Homo sapiens: one gene and its partner. The protein of the gene in region 1 purifies or fractionates together with the protein of each later gene. This does not show direct contact. Each region holds a gene or a part of one and is shown on either strand. Other genes may lie near its edges.

What was found. Proteins that work in one complex are often made in the same cells at the same time.
Region 2: the proteins of PRIMA1 (region 1) and TTC9 purify together in Homo sapiens (affinity purification with mass spectrometry; one large-scale study listed by BioGRID and IntAct). This does not show direct contact.

The regions. Positions count from the first base shown.
Region 1 is NC_000014.9:93,785,686-93,789,738, reverse strand, and holds the start of PRIMA1 (proline-rich membrane anchor 1 precursor), read left to right. Parts: upstream 1-1,253; 5' UTR 1,254-1,329; intron 1,330-1,989; 5' UTR 1,990-2,020; coding exon 2,021-2,113; intron 2,114-4,053. UniProt on the Homo sapiens protein: Required to anchor acetylcholinesterase (ACHE) to the basal lamina of the neuromuscular junction and to the membrane of neuronal synapses in brain. Also able to organize ACHE into tetramers.
Region 2 is NC_000014.9:70,640,713-70,644,715, reverse strand, and holds the start of TTC9 (tetratricopeptide repeat protein 9A), read right to left. Parts: upstream 2,801-4,003; 5' UTR 2,587-2,800; coding exon 2,181-2,586; intron 1-2,180.

The DNA.
Region 1 (4,053 bases):
TCTCTCATCCAACCTAAAAATAGGATTGTCCAGGCCTTGAGGGCCTTCTGGAAGGCGCCCCCATCAGTCAAAGCGCTTGCAAAGTGCTTCCACCACAAGAGCAGAGAGGCCGCGCCATGCCTGTGATGCTGCTAGGCACAGCTTGTCTGAAAGAGATGCAACCAGGCTACCTCCCGAAGAACCGACTTGTTGATAATCTTGCCTCAAACAGAGGAGTTTGCAGATGGTTGAGGAAGAGCAGTGGTAGAAATGTTCTCCCCAGGGCCGTCACAACTCCTTCCCAGCCGCAGCCTAGTGTTGCAAGAGAGTTTCTGCTGCTGGGACTACAAAGGAGAGGACAAGGCCCATGGCCGGGAGAGGGGCGGCCTGCACCTTTCAGCCCCGGCGCCCGGGAGAGCCTGCGGGGAGTGCGGCGGGGAGAGTCCTCAAGGATGGAGCGCAAAAAAGGGTCTCAAGTCAGTCCTCGCCACCTTTCCGCAGCCTCGGGAGAGGCTTGGGGGAAGCGCAGGCAAGGGCCAAAACCCCATGGAAGTGGGAATCCTCGGCCTCCAGGGTGAATAAATAATTAAGCGCCCAATACACAATAGCCTCGCTAGATGGAGACGAGGAATCACTGCAGCGGCGCTGGCGGCGGCGGCGGGGGGAGCGCAACCCCGGGCGGGAGGCGGGAGAGGCTCTGGCTCGGCTCACGTCTGTTTTCCTTTTTCGTGGATTATTTATTTCGCCTCCACCCACGGCTTTGCTGCCCCAGCGGGAGCTCCCTGCCGGCGCCTCCCGCCGCTGCCTCTCGCGGGCCAGCGTGAGGGTAGTAGAGAGCTCGGGCACCCCAGTGCCCCGGGCAGCCGCGCGGCGCCACCAGGAAAGGCGGGGAGCCAACGCGGGCCCGGGGAGGGCTCGCGCGGCCGGCTCCAGGCGGCGTGGAGGAGACTTTCCCCGCCCTCTGCCTCCGCCTCGGCGGCCAGCCCTGGCCCTGGGAGCGGGGTGCCGCCCCTCCCGCCCCGCGCGCGGCTAGGCGCAGTCCGGAGCCACCGCGCCCTGCGCCCCGTGCGAGGACGCCGCTCCTGGTCCTCTGCTCAGCGGCCCGGGAGGCCCAACCGGCGCGCAAACTTTTGCTCCAGCGCCGGGCGCTCCTCCCCGGCATGTGAAGCCCCCGGGCGCCCGCGCAGCCGCCAAGGTGAGGACGGAGGCCCCGCCTAGAGGGCGGGGGACTGGGGAGGCGGCTGGCTTTAAATGGGGGCTGTCCGGCTGCTGGGAAACAGAGCTGCCGCGGGGGGAACGCGGACCTCTTTTCCCCGAGCCCAGGGTCGGCTGGGGCCGCCGCCAGGCAAGGTAGCGTGAGGCGTTGGAAGGGTGCGGGCGGAGATGGAGGCGTGGGGGAACCCACGCCCGGGAGCGGGAGATCGGGGCTGGGCGGAGGCGTGCAAAGGGGCAGCGCACGGAGGTGCCTATGTTGCAGTGTGCGCAATGAGGCCGGCTGGGCAGTGTGGGTGCAGGCAGCGTGAGATTTCTTGGGGCCGTGCATGCAGGGTCAGCGAGGGTGCAGGCAGGAGTCGGTGGGTGTGCACGGGGATCAGTGTGTGTGCACGGCTGTTTCTGTGGTTGTGCGCGCAGGTGAGTAGTGCCCGCCGGGTTTGAAGTGTGCTCACAGTGAGAGTGAGTTGTATGGGGGTTAATGGGGCGCAGTAAGTGTGCTTGGCTGTTTCTGGAGGTGTCCATGGGGCCAAGGTATGCACGCAGTATTCTGGAGCTGTGCGCGGAGCTAAAGTGTACACGCGGGGCTCTGGGGATGTGCGTAAGAAGAGTGTGAATTCTGGGACTGACGAAGAGTCAGTGAAGGTGTAAGCTGGAGTGTAAGTGCAGGCTTGGTTTACTAGGGTGCCCCTGGGTGCGGGGCGTGCCCGTCCGACCCGGGCTGGGAGGTATATTGGTGCGCGGCGGCGGAAGTGCCTGCGCGGTGTCCGCCTGACCCTAGCCTTGCTCTCCTGACAGTTCGCCCCAGGAGCGGGCGCCGCTGGCCGAGATGCTCCTCCGGGACTTGGTGCTGCGCCGTGGCTGCTGCTGGTCCTCGCTGCTGCTGCACTGCGCGCTCCACCCGCTCTGGGGCTTCGTGCAGGTGAGACGCGCCGGCTGCGCACTGGCTGGGAGGGCCTCCTGGGTAAGGGGCGAGCTGTCCCTTCCCTCCTGAGACCCTGGCCTCTTGCAGCCACCCCACTGATTGGTTCTCGGAAGAGCTTGGGAAAAGAAAAGCTGCTACGGTCCCCTATACCCTACCCCTGAAAAGATAAGAAACTCCAAAGAGAGGCTTCGATTGTGGCCTAAATCCTGCAGGACCGGGCTGGCCTTGGAATGGAAAGGGGCTCAGAGAATACCTTCCAATGATAACATTCTAGGGCAGAAATTCAGCAAAGAAACAAACTTACAAAGAAAAATGATCCCAAGGATATATATTATTTCTTTCTCACCAGAACCACTGATGAACTTCAAATTAGCTTTCTTAAACTGGTTTTCAACACGGAAGGCAGCCGTGTTTCTTATAGGTATCAGAGTTGAGGATGTAGACAGATAATGCATGGTGGCCCATCTGTCAGGACTGCCCAGGGTTGAATCTCTCACCCTGGGTCCCTTAAATCCCAGGGCAGAGGCCAGGCAGCCACTAACTGGAGTTACCTCTTAGGGTCAGAGAGGGGTTTCAATGGGGTGGTCCCTAGTCCCCCCCAGAATGCGCATCGTCACTGGTACAGTGGAGAGGTGACAAGGTGGACTTCGATGTCAGCTCTGGAATTTGAGCTTCAGCTCTGTCCCTCACCAGCTGGGAGGCTTTAGGCAACCCACTTACCCTCTCTGAGAGTTAGTTTCTTCTTCCTGACTGTACTATTGTAAGTACTTGATGAGATAAATGCATGTAAGGATTACTTAGTGCAGTGCCAGGTCCATGATGAAATTAACCAGTAGTGGTTGCTGCCATTGTTGATAGGAGTAATAGCAATGCCGTTCTTCTGCCTGGCTGACCAGGTACTCTGTTTATCACTGCGTGGTCTGTTTGACATTTTTTCTGCAGGCTCTGGAGGACATTTTCATTGTTTTGGGCATTGAGGATCCACTCTGGGGTATTTGTAGCCTCATGTGCTCCTGATGGCATTTTGGGGTTTGGGGACAATTCACATGGTTGCTCTGTACTAGTAGGGGTGACAGACCAGGAAAAAAAGGGATGCGGGCAAGACCACTTGCCAGTCTACCGAGGTCCATGAGCTGCCCCAAATGATGGGGCCCTGCCGAGAGCTTGCTCAGTCAGTCCTGCCTGGATGATGGCCTGGGTGACTGCCCATCGATAGCCAGGTTCAGACGCTGCTCAGCACCCCCTACTCCCAGGCCCCATCTTCTGCTCTCTTCTCTGGCTTGCCTCCGTCTCACAATTGTTTTCCTTTTGGAATTGACAGCTTTGTCTAATGTGTGAAACAGCAGTTATTAAACTCAGCTGTGCCTCCTCAGGAAACATGATTTTGTCACTTCTAAACACTTTAGTGGCTTGGGACCAGCTTCGCTTGTTCAACTTTTAGCTGAACCTCAGATATTGAGTTCACTTCGTTTTTAGATTCATTTGTTTACACTTTTCTCTCTTCCATAAGACACCTTCACCTGGGGTGGGAAGCAACGTAGTGAGGTTGTCAGTCTCCAGGACTAGAATTCTGCTGTGTAAGCTAGTAGGATCTAAACAGAAGACCCCCAAGCACCATGCACTCCTCCCAGAAGAAATAATTTTGTGAAAGCAGTTCAGTTTTTTAAGTGTCCTTCAGCCAGGCAGTACTTACACAAGCAGGGGTGTGTGTGTGTGTGTATGCAGGGGTGTCTGTGTGTGTGCAGGGGTGTGTGTGTGTGCGGGTGTATTTCAGATGCTCTCACTCAATACAAATCAATTTTCATAAAAATCAATTTAAAAAGGAACCCTCCAGACAAGTAGAATGGGTAAAATCTTGGCTTGAGGCTCTGGAAAAATTAATTTACAAATGATAGGGACAGGGAAATCAAGGGAAAGGGGTTTTGGAATGAATGGAT
Region 2 (4,003 bases), about 23 Mb from region 1:
CCGTTAGAGCCTTGAATCAAAGTATTCTATTTCTTTCTCCTGGTTACCAGGCCTGAGATCTCCCAAAGGAATTTCCAAAGTGCAAGGCTTTGGAGCCCACCTGAAATTGGGCTCAAGTGAGACAGAGGCCCAGAGGATGCTGACTTTGTGCATCAAAGTATGATGACAAGAACATTGCCTTTGGAGAAGAATGGCTCCGGAGCCTTGAGCTTTTTCTCTGCAAAACTGATGATCATATTTCTTTTACATAGATTATAAAGATTTAAAGAGACAATGTATGGAGGATGCCTAACAGCACACACAATTAATTATTAATATAAGTGGTGAGCACTGGAGAAGGCAGCAGAGGGGGAATATCTGCTATTGCTACTTTCCATTCTCTCACCGTTGAAGTTTTCCAGTGTGTGAGGTGAGGATGGGAGTGGTGGAGCTATCCAGATTTCAGTCCCGCCCTGACTGGGCTGGCCTGACCAAGGACACATCTTTGATTTCACCATGGAAAAGTAACCACGTCTGGGGTGGAGGGCAGGCAGTGCTAGCCACTGGTTGGCAGCCCTAGAATGTCCATGGATAATACTGACTAAATATAAGATTCCATTACCACTCCAAAGTCACCGCATTAGCAATCCACAGTGCCTCGTCCTCCACCCATGGCTGCTCTGCCCTTTAACTATTCATGGGGCAGCAGACAGTATGCCAAAGACTTACAGGAACTAAAGGACTCAAGCTGTATCTTATAATGGATTGAAAGAGTCCATTTTTGCTGTACTACAATTTTATCTGCTACTATTACTGCTAGTATTGCTATTAGCACCACCACTCCTCCAACTGCTGCTACTACTACTCTATTAATCCTTTAAGTCTGTAAAGTACTTTACAATTTACAAAGTGCCTCCGTAGCCTGGGTTTTACCCGATCAAAGATGAGACTGGGCATGGCATTCTGGGAAGACAGAGGTAGGCTGGTACTAGAAACCTCAGAGGGAACAGAGAGATCTGCATTTAAGAACCGAGCAGAATTGCCAGTATTTATTTTTACTCCCCCACCACTGCCTCGGCTTCAGACACATTCACCATTCCCTGCCACACCCAGTCACTCTTCCACCCCTACCCTGCTCTAACTGTCCATAGACAGTTTAGGCAACCTCACATGTCAGGAACTAGGAGGAACTGCCCTTTGTTTGGTCGGAGAAGGTTGACCATGCCAGAATCTCACCAAATGGGGCAAGAGAAGAGGAGAGAATGCTTTTTAAGTTGCCTTTGCCAACCTCTCCCACCTTCTCCCAGGAAGGCCCTAGCAAGAGCCAGACTCTTCTTTTTTTAAGAGACTTTAAATATTCCTGCGCCTAAATTAAACAATTTTTAAATCCCTGATTTTGGCTCTTATCCCCAAAGGGAATGTTGGAATGTACACCTTCTTTGCCCAAGAGTAGGGCCCCCTTTTCCTTCACCCCTAGCAGCCAGCTGGCGTGAGGACTGATGCTACACATAGTGAGAAACGGGCAGGGAGGAGAGGGAGAATGCAGCATAGTTCAAGCCCAACCATGAACCAAGCTTCTTTTGAGATAGAGATCTTCACCTGGCAACCGGGAGCCCCAGCAGAGCTCAGAGAGAAGAAAGTGGCATTCTGGAATCCATTTTGCTCAAGATGCTGAAGGCATGGTGTCAAACTCCCCTTTGCTACTGGGGCCAAAAAACTTGGGGAAGATCTTACCTACAGGGATGCGGTTAGTTGGGGAAAAGGCGAGGACCAATCCTGGTGCTCATGCTACCTAAGGAGAGCAGACAGGTGCGTGGCCTCCCTTGGGACCCACCCGCAGGAAAAAGCTGGGCTAGCGGTGGCTGCGGGGGCCCACCCCGGGCGCTGCTTCCGCATTTTGGACCCAGGTCCACTGGTGAGCAGTAGCAGCAGCAGCCATAGCCAGGCCAGCTGGGTCCCCTTCCAGTCATTTCTAGGTGAGATTTACGATGTATGCTAGCGAAGGGACAAGAGATGATTATGGCCTTTGAAAGGCATAATCCTGAAAGTCACACTTTTTCCAAAGCGCCTCCCTCCCGGGTTCTCCCCAGAGCAACACAGTCACAGCAGGAGAATCTGCACCGCGGGAGCGCCGCAGTGGTCCGCGGAGGGACCGGGCCGAAGAACGGGGACCGCGGCGCGGGGGGCGCGGCGCGGCTCACCTGCCAGGCTGTTGTAACAGTCGATCTCGATGGCTTCCACCGTCTTGCTCTGCTCCTCCGAGAGGCGGCCGGGCTTCAGGGCCCCAGCCGGGGAGGCCGGGCGCGAGTCCCGCTCCCGTTCCCCGGGGGGCGGCAGCAGCCCCTTCAGCTCCAGCAACGCCCGGTGGTATTTGCCTATGGCTTCACGGAATTTCTTGTCCTTGTAGCACTGCGCCCCTTGGCTTTTGAACTCGTGCGCTCGTCGGATGAGCTCGGCCGGCTCGGCCGCCGCCCCGACCTGGCCCCTCGCTGGGGCTCCTCCGCCGCCGCCCGGGACGCACAGCGGCGGCGGTGGCCGCTGCCCCTCTCCGGCCGCGGGCGGGCTCGGGTTCCCCTTGGCCCCGGCCGCCGAGCCCTTTCTCTCCATTCGGCCGCCGCCCCGGCGCCTGGTGCGCGCCGCGATCTGCCCGCCGCCGCCGCCGCCGCCGCGCCTTCCCGGGTTTAAAAGCCGCGGGCGCCGGCCCCGCGCCTCGCAGGCTTCGTGGCGGCCGTGACACCCCGCGGCGGTCTGGCGCCCCGCACTCCCATTCTCCCCGCTGCTGCCAGAGGCTGCTCCAGCCGCCGCCGCCGCCGCCTCGGACGCCGGCCCCTCCCCCGCCTCCCGGCTCCGCGCCGCCCGCTCCCGCCCTCCTCCCTCCGCAACCTGCGGGTGGCGGGGGCCGGTGCTCGCGGGCCCGGGACTAGCGCTGCGGGGGGACCGTGGCCCCGAGTGGGGTGGCGGGGATGGTCGCTGACCCGGAAGAAGCTTGGCTTGCCCGAAGGAGGGGAGGATTAATGACAAAGACGGCCCCGCTCTTTCCCATTCAATCCCGCTCTGCGAGGCGCGCCTAGTCTGAAAGGAGGTGGGGGGAGGGGGGTAGGTGTAGGGGAAGGGGAGTGTGTGTGTGTGCGTGTGTGTGTGTGTGTGTGCGTGCGTGTAGGGATGGGGGGCGGCGGCGACGAAATGCGTGCAGAAATAGATTTCTTAACTACAAGAAAAGGTGCGGCAGGGAACAAGGGGCGCAGGCGCAAGCCGTAGCTGCTAGTTCTTTGCAGTAAGGTGTTAGTATTTTTTAAGGGGGCAGGGCCTCCTTTTTGTGGATCCAGGTTGTCGCTGAGGTGTGTCTCGGTGTGTGTGGTCGCCGGGGCGTCCAGAACGCGACGGGCGGTACAGCGTGTGGGGCGCCGTATTCTGGGAGCCTGTGTATGCGTGTGCTGTGTGCGCGCAGCTGTGCAGGATGAATCACAGACATCAGAGATGGAGAACACCTGTTACTGTGGGTCATCGGCTTGGCGTGCGTCCGGTCTAGTTTCCATTTACAGGACAGTTCTGTGCCCTTCCTCAGGAGGTCCCATTCCTTCCTTCTTTTGGTCGGTTCTGAGTGTCAGCTGTCTACTGGGGATCTGCTAAGGCTAAGAGGCAAAGATAGGCAAGTCACTCCCCTGACCTCAAGAAACTCCCAGTCTACAGGCGAAGATACACCACCCACCGGTAGAGTCGCTGGACCAGGTACAGATGGTGCCTGTCATTGGGGAGGAACGAAAAGTGCTGTGCAGCCCTGAGGGGGGGAGGGAGAGGTAGCTTTTTGAGTAGTGGTAGATCAGGAGGCTTTATGGAGGAAATAGCATTTGAGGACCTTGAAGGCTGGGTAGGATTTGGCATGAAGAAGTAGAAGGAAGTGGCATAGCCGGAGTGAGGAAATCCAGCGGAAGTCCTGATGTTTGAAATCTCAGGTGTGTTTAGGGCATAGTGGTTTGATTTTATAGCCTAATGAGAAGTAGTGGGAAATGACGGGGTTGGATTA